Homo sapiens: one gene and its partner. The protein of the gene in region 1 purifies or fractionates together with the protein of each later gene. This does not show direct contact. Each region holds a gene or a part of one and is shown on either strand. Other genes may lie near its edges.

Region 1 (3,822 bases):
ATTACTGGAATAAGGCTGACCTTACTGATGGGTCATTCTCCAGGAGTTCAGTGAGCCGTTGTACTTGTTCTGGCTGGATGGACCGCCCTAAGAGTGCTTCTGTGTTAGTGTAGATGAGGAATGCTGAGACCATGCCTAATAAGGTGCCCACACCCAAAGAACCTAGGCTGTCATACAGTGGATTGCCTAAATGAAGCACATAAAAAAATCAGTAAATTAACAGTTTATATTATTTCAGTGAACTTTATAGAGAGCAAAGAACCAGAACGAGTAAATCAAGGCACTTGAAATTTATTCCTAATTTCTTTAATTACTTCCTTTAACAACTCCTAATAGTTTTAATATACCACAAAATGAGGATGCTACAACTTGCTTTCATAAGAGTACTATGTGACATAATTAAGATCTCTTACTTGTACCTGTCATTACATATGTGAAGTTTCTGAGCACATTTAGATTAGAGACACCAATACAAAAAAATGACATAATGAAGAGTCCATTTCTTTTAGATATATCCATAGCACTTTTCCTACACCAGATAGACAAAATAACAGTGGAATCAAAAGCTGAAAGAAACCTTTTTCCGTATCTTCTTCCTACTAATGTTCTGTAAGAGAATTAAGCCCTACAGAAAATAATATGGGTGACTCTCTTCTCATCCAACCAAGGATGATATATAGCTAGTATCATTCTAGATAAAAAGGAGAGAACTTAATTCATTACATGCCATAGGTGCCTCAAGGTGGTGCTTCTCAAAGTGTGGTTCCTGGACCAGCAGCCATCACTTGAAAACTTGGTAGAAAAGCAAATTCTCAGACCTCATTTCAGGCCCCTGAATAAAAAATTCTGGATGTGGGTTTCAGCATTCTGTGTTTCCCCAAGCCCTTCAGGTGATTCTGATTCTAATATTTGCCTTAGGTTGTCAGGGCTTCTCTCCCAGAACCAATGAGAAAGGCTGATTTATCATCTATGAATGTATAGGTAATATTTATATAATAGACACCAATAAATACGTTTTAAATCTTTATAATAAATTTTACACATGGCTTTTATGACTACAAGTCTTTTTATCCCAAAGATGAAATGTCATCAATATATTTAACTCTTCTTAATGCTTGATAAAACATATATTTTGCTAAGCTGTAACACTAAAAAGCAAACTTGTTAATCTATACTAAGTGTTAAAAATGATCCGCTTGTAAAACATTATCCATTAGAAGTTTTGTAATTATAGAGCTCAAAATCAAATACTGCTCTTTAGAAATCCAAATGTGAAGAGTTATTTTTATTTAAATATATACATTCATGTACTCTTAAAGAAATTACAGGAATATTAGCTGAAAGAAAATACCTTTTTTAAGAAAACTTTTATTTCTTGGCATGTTATTTAATTTAATTTGAATAAATTAGCTAATTAAGAAAAATTTAATTCATGTAAAACACATTACATATTTTTGTAAATTTGATTTGATTGGTTTCTATTATTATGTAAAAGAAAATAAATTATTCAAAGTTGACATCTGCATCAAGTCACACTTTTCTTAAGCCTAAAATTTTGCTAGTAATTTATGTTCAAAAACAGTCTAAAACTATATGGTCAACCAGAAAAACAATCAACATTTTTACAAATATTTTGGATCACAATAAACATCAGAGAATGCTAGTTTGGTATTAAAATGCACACTCAGAATGAGAAAGAAGTATTCATATTTCAGACTATTTGAAGAAACACTGCAGAACTGTGGAAGCTCGTCACCTAAAATTATTTTAAATATGTAAGGACAAATAGAGAAGTATGGAAGAAGTTCCTTTCCAAGAGAATTCCAACTTCATAAATTGAGTCTTTTCATGCTAAATGGTTGTTTTCGAAAATAAAAATAAAATAGAATTGTCTTTTCATTTACTTGTATTTTATTGGCCCTCAAAACACTTAATTAGCTACCAAAATAAGGACACAAACAACTTAGAATTAAAGAAATAGGAAGGCAACAGTAGTTATTATTGGCATTAAGTGTGGAAAAAGACAAATGAACAAGAGCCACAATATACGGTTAAGTCCTCATTCATGTTGTCAATAGGTTCTTAGAAACTGCGACTTTATAGGGAACAACATATAACAAAACCAATTTTACCATAAGCTAACTGATACAAACAAGAGTTAAGTTCCGGCCGGGCGTGGTGGCTCATGCCTGTAATCCCAGCACTTTGGGAGGCCAAGGTGGGAGGATCACCCCCGAGGTCGGGAGTTTGAGATCAGCCTGACCAATATGGAGAAACCCCGTCTCTAATGAAAATACAAAACTAGCCGGGCGTGGTGGCGCATGCCTGTAATCCCAGCTACTCGGGAGGCTGAGGCAGGAGAATTGCTTGAACCTGGGAGGTGGAGGTTGCAGTGAGCCGACATGGCACCATTGCATTCCAGCCTGGGCAACAAGAGCAAAACTCTGTCTCAAAAAAAAAAAAAAAGAGTTAAGTTCCTATGGCATATTTCTGGTCACAAAAACATCACTCAACTTCTAAGACCCAAAACATGTCTAATATTGAACACTGAAATAAATGTGGGCTACATATACATTTTTAAAAATTAATAAAAACTATGTAAAATAATTATTTACCCAATTTTTGGTGAATCAGTGAGTATCAGCAATAGTAGGGGTGGTGAGTTAAATCAAAGAATAAATGTTTGCAAAGTGAAAATTGTAAGGAACACCTATCACCACATAATTCAAAAATAAACAACCACAAATATGTAGGCTTGCTGAGCGCTTTCATACATCAGTTATTGTCCTGCATTTGTCTGATTATCATCTACTTGAGCCTATCCTAGCAGTTCAGGACACAGGAAGGAACCAGACCTGGCCAGGATGCCATCCCATGGCAGGGCACACTTACACACACCCCCACACTCACTCAGATTGGGACTATTTAGACACCCCAATTCACTGACCATGTACGGCATTGTGATGTGGGAGGAAGTTGGGGTGCCCAAAGAAAACCTATGTAGATAAAAGGAGAATGAGCAAACTCCACAGAGATGGTAGCTCCAGTTAGGAATTGATATTTTTCGCAACAATGTTATAACAAAATCAAGTTGAACAAAACAATGTTATTTGAGGACCTATGTATATTTATTTGGAACTTTAGAGTTTATTAAAACTCTCATATTTTCTTAATAAACCTAAGAGGTTACCAAGGTAAATATTATCCACACTTTTATAGGTAAATAAAAAGTTCAGAGTGATTGCACAATTTTTTAAGTCACAGCTAGAAAGACGTACAGCATTACAGAAATCCTTTACAAATAGCCTTCCTTATTTCTAATTTAGAGACATTTTTAATTCAAATAAACCTGAATACTTCTGCTGACCAAATGTCTTACATAAGTCAATGATTAGTAGGAATTAACATTTAACAATTTGTTGGTTTAATATTATTCAATGATATAAGAGAAAATTCCCACATATTAGAGAATTATTTAAGTAGGACAAATAAATCACCTGTAATTTAAGGAATATTTACCTGTTATAGAAGTAAGGCCCATGCAAGTGGCTGCTATTATAACTCCCAAGACTGCAGCAGTATCCTCCAATAATATCACATTTGTACTAGGATCACGACTTTCCATTACTAGTCATTGGGGAAGAGACAAGACAAGAAAATTTCTAAAATCTTAACTTGATACTATCAGGTAACATTTTAATAAGTATCCATTTAAAATCAAGATATAAGTTAAGATAAAAAAGTGTATGAGAGATTATGATTTTAAAAACCTTGCTCAATGCAAACATAATTTCTTGGCTTAAATGTCAACAATAACTGATA
Region 2 (3,822 bases), on another chromosome or scaffold:
TCAAAAGGTCGGAATGCCTCTGCTACTACTGCCAAAGCATTGGAGTCATCCAGATTCTCACAGGAAAGGAAATGAAGCTCCTGGGAGACCAAGGCAGGCAGCTCACCTGAGGTCAGGAGTTCGAGACCAGCCTGGCCAACACAGTGAAAACTCGGTCTCCACTAAAAATAAAAAATACAAAAATTAGCCAGGCATGGTGGCATGCACCTGTCATCCCAGCTACTTGGGAGGCTGAGGCAGAATTGCTTGAACCTGGAAGGAGGAGGCTGCAGTGAGCTAAGACTGCACCACTGCACTCCAGCATGGGAGACAGAGTGAGACTGTGTCTGGGAAAAAAAAAAAAAAGCTTCTGGGGAAAAGGAGAAGGCATAAAGCAAGAAAGGAGATTCCCAATCTGGAGCAATAATGCGTTTGCTTGCTTTTTGTCAAAGCAACGTCATTGGTTTTCTCTCCCTTTCGCTGTCACTTTAAAATGTATTTTTCTGGCAACAGAAACCTCCTGCCCCTTCAGCCTCCCAAATAAGGAGTCCCAAAGCAGAACAGGTAACAGTAGGGCCCTACCAATTCTGCATCATGGTCGAGGCCTATGTCATGGTGCTCAAGCTCTTCATCCCGAAATTTCTTTATCAGCTGGTTAAATAAAAAGACACCAAAGCAAGTTAGCCTTCCAACTCTCCTGCTGTTCCATTTCATTTTGGAGGCTAAAGCCTCTTATTATGGCCTAAGACAGGGAGGCCAGCTTTTCCTCTAAAGGGCCAGAGAGTAAATACTTTGTTGCAACTACCCAACTCTGCCACTGTAACCAGAAAAGCAGCCGGAGACATGCAAACAAATGGACGTGCTTGTGTTCCAATAAAAGTTTATTTAAAGAAACAGGTGGCTGGCCACAGGCCATAGTTTGCCAACCTCAGATTTAGACTCTAAAAAACTAAACAGTTCCCTTATTTGCTGTGGAAAATTATCTCAGGATATCTATTCATTTATTCAATCTAAAGGGTTCCTGCTCACAGCATCTGCTCAGAATCTACCAATGATAAAGAAGTGGGCCGGGCGCGGTGGCTCACGCCTGCAATCCCAGCACTTTAGGAGGCCAAGGCAGGAGGATCACCTGAGGTCAGGAGTTCCAGACCAGCCTGGCCAACATGGTGAAACCCCGTCTCTACTAAAAATACAAAAATTAGCTGGGCGTGGTGGTGCATGTCTGTAATCCCAGCTACCTGGGACGCCGAGGCAGGAGAATCGCTGGAACCCGGGAGGCGGAGGCTGCAATGCAGGCGGAGACCACTGCACTCCAGCCTTGGGGACAGAGTGAGACTCCATCTCAAAAAAAAAAAAAAAAAAAAAAAAAAAGTGAACAGCACCAGGTGGTGTGGCTCACACCTGTAATCTCAGCACTTTGGGAGGCCGAGGCAGAAGAATCACTTGAGCCCAGGAGCTCAAGACCAATCTGGACAACATAGAGAGAGACTGTGCCTACAAAAAATTTTAAAAATTAAAAATAAAATAAGTGAACAGGACAGGGCTCAAGAGACAAGGGTTCTGGCCGGATGTGGTGGTTCATGCCTATAATTCTAGCACTTTGGGAAGCTGAGGAGAGAGGACTACTGGAGCTCAGAAATTCAAGACCAGCCTGGAAAACATAGTGAGACCCCATCTCTTAAAAAAAAAAAAAAAAAAAAAATTAGCTGTGAGTGGTGGCTATGTATGTAGTCCCATAGCTACTCGGGAGGCTGAGGCAGGAGGATCACTTGAACCCAAGAGTTTGAAGATGCAGTGAGCTATGACTGTGCCACTGTACTCCGGCCTGGGCAACGGAGCAAGACCTCATCTCTAAATAAAAAGAAAAAAGACAAAGGAGACAAGGGTTCTAGTCCCAGCTCTGTCTGTGCTGTATGGCCAGGGCAGACGGGTTCACCTCTCTGTTCCTCAGTTTGCTCACCTTTAAACTGAGGCACTGACCTGAGCCTCTAAACCCCCATCATCCCCTAACAATCTCTAACATGTTTTCCTCTTACCCAATTGCTATCTGCCATTTTCCTCCTTGAGCAGCCCCGTTCTAGAGCACGGATAAATACCTGAAGAAGTTCCTCGTATTTTTCAGGGTCCTCCTCCATCAGCGTCCTGATCTGGTTGTTGTAGTGATGTGCTATGCTCTCTTCCACCGCCACGGTGCAGGCCATGGCACCTTCCTTCCCGAGCAAGGCGGTCCCCGCCCCTGGGATTGTTAAACCCAGACCAGAAAAGTAAGAGACAGATATGACCGGTAATGGAGACCATCTGTGGCCAGGGCTTCTTAACCTCTGCACCAGACATCGGGCCGGGTCATTCTTTGTGACAGGGGCTGTCCCATGCATGGTGGGATATTTAACTGCATCTCTGACCTCTACCAACTAGATGCCAGCAGTGCCAACTAAGTTTTGACAATCAAAACTGTCCCGAGGGCTGGGCACAATGGATCACGCCTATAGTCCCAGCACTTTGGGAGGCCGAGGCGGATCACCTGAGGTCAGGAGTTCGAGACCAACCTGGCTAACATGGTGAAACCGTCTCTACTAAAAATACAAAAATTAGTCAGTGTGGTGGTGGGCGCCTGTAATCCCAGCTACTTGGGAGGCTGAGGCAGGAAAATCGCTTGAAGCCGGGAGGTGGAGGTTGCAGTGAGCCAAGATCACGCCACTGCACTCCAGCGTGGGTGACAGAACAAGACTCCATCTCAAAAAAAAAAAAAAAAAAAAATGTCCCTAGGTATTGCCACATGTCCTCATCAGGGGGACAAACTCACCCTGAGGGAGAACCACTGTTTTAGGAGACACTGGATCCCAGTGTTAAACCTGGAATTACACAGTTAAGAAAAACCATTCTCTTTTCAATGCTGTTTTATCCTGACCGTGGCCAAGAGAAGTCAGCATTTGGGGTGAGTATATCTTTGATCTTTTATACCATTTATTCTTCTCCGTTTTTTAAAAGAGTGAACAGATCTCAGGTTGAGAATCGTTGTCAGGGAACAGTATTTGGCTGCAACTGAATTCTACTAGCTTTTTTTCTCTGTTGTTTATTTTTACTGTATTTTCTATTTATAATACTGACATTAGGCCAGGTGCAGTGCCTCACGCCTGTAATCCTAGCACTTCGGGGAGGCCAGAGAGGGAAGATGGCTTGAGGCCAGCAGTTTGAGACCAGCCTAGGTAACATAACGAGACCCCATCTCTACAAAAAAAATAGAGCTGTGCGTGGTGGCATGCGCCAGTAGTCCAAGATACTCAGGCTCAGAGGCTTAGGTGGGAGGATCACTTGAACCCAAGAGTTTGAGGTTTCAGTGAGCTACGACTATACCACTGTACTCCAGCCTGGGCAACAGAGTGAGACCCTGGCTCTGGTTTGTTTTTTTTTGTTTTGTTTTGGTTTTTTTTTGAGACAGAGTGTCGCTCTGTCACCCACGCTGGAGTGCAGTGGGCCAATCTTGGCTCACTGCAACCTCCAGCTCCCAGGTTCAAGCGATTCTCTGGCCTCAGCCTCCCAAGTAGCTGGGATTACAGGCACGCACCACCATGCCCGGCTAATTTTTGTATTTTTAATAGAGTCGGGGGTTTCACCATGTTGTTCAGGCTGGTCTCGAACTCCTGACCTCATGATCTGCCCGCCTCGGCCTCCCAAAGTGCTGGGATTACAGGTGTGAGCCATCACGCCCGGCCTTTTTTTTTAAAGTACTGACATTAAGATTCTATCTTAAATAAATTTAACCACACACAAAAAAAGGCAGTCAATTTAACCTCGGAAAAATATGAAGTAAACAGAATGAGGTCATAAGAGGACACAGCAAGA

The links.
Region 2: the proteins of SLC30A9 (region 1) and COQ7 purify together in Homo sapiens (affinity purification with mass spectrometry; one large-scale study listed by BioGRID and IntAct). This does not show direct contact.

What each region holds. Positions count from the first base shown.
Region 1 is NC_000004.12:42,066,890-42,070,711, reverse strand, and holds part of SLC30A9 (proton-coupled zinc antiporter SLC30A9, mitochondrial), read right to left. Parts: intron 3,628-3,822; coding exon 3,520-3,627; intron 187-3,519; coding exon 21-186; intron 1-20. UniProt on the Homo sapiens protein: Mitochondrial proton-coupled zinc ion antiporter mediating the export of zinc from the mitochondria and involved in zinc homeostasis, zinc mobilization as well as mitochondrial morphology and health.
Region 2 is NC_000016.10:19,074,114-19,077,935, reverse strand, and holds part of COQ7 (NADPH-dependent 3-demethoxyubiquinone 3-hydroxylase, mitochondrial), read right to left. Parts: intron 2,216-3,822; coding exon 2,076-2,215; intron 631-2,075; coding exon 562-630; intron 1-561. UniProt on the Homo sapiens protein: Catalyzes the hydroxylation of the 5-methoxy-2-methyl-3-(all-trans-polyprenyl)benzoquinone at the C6 position and participates in the biosynthesis of ubiquinone.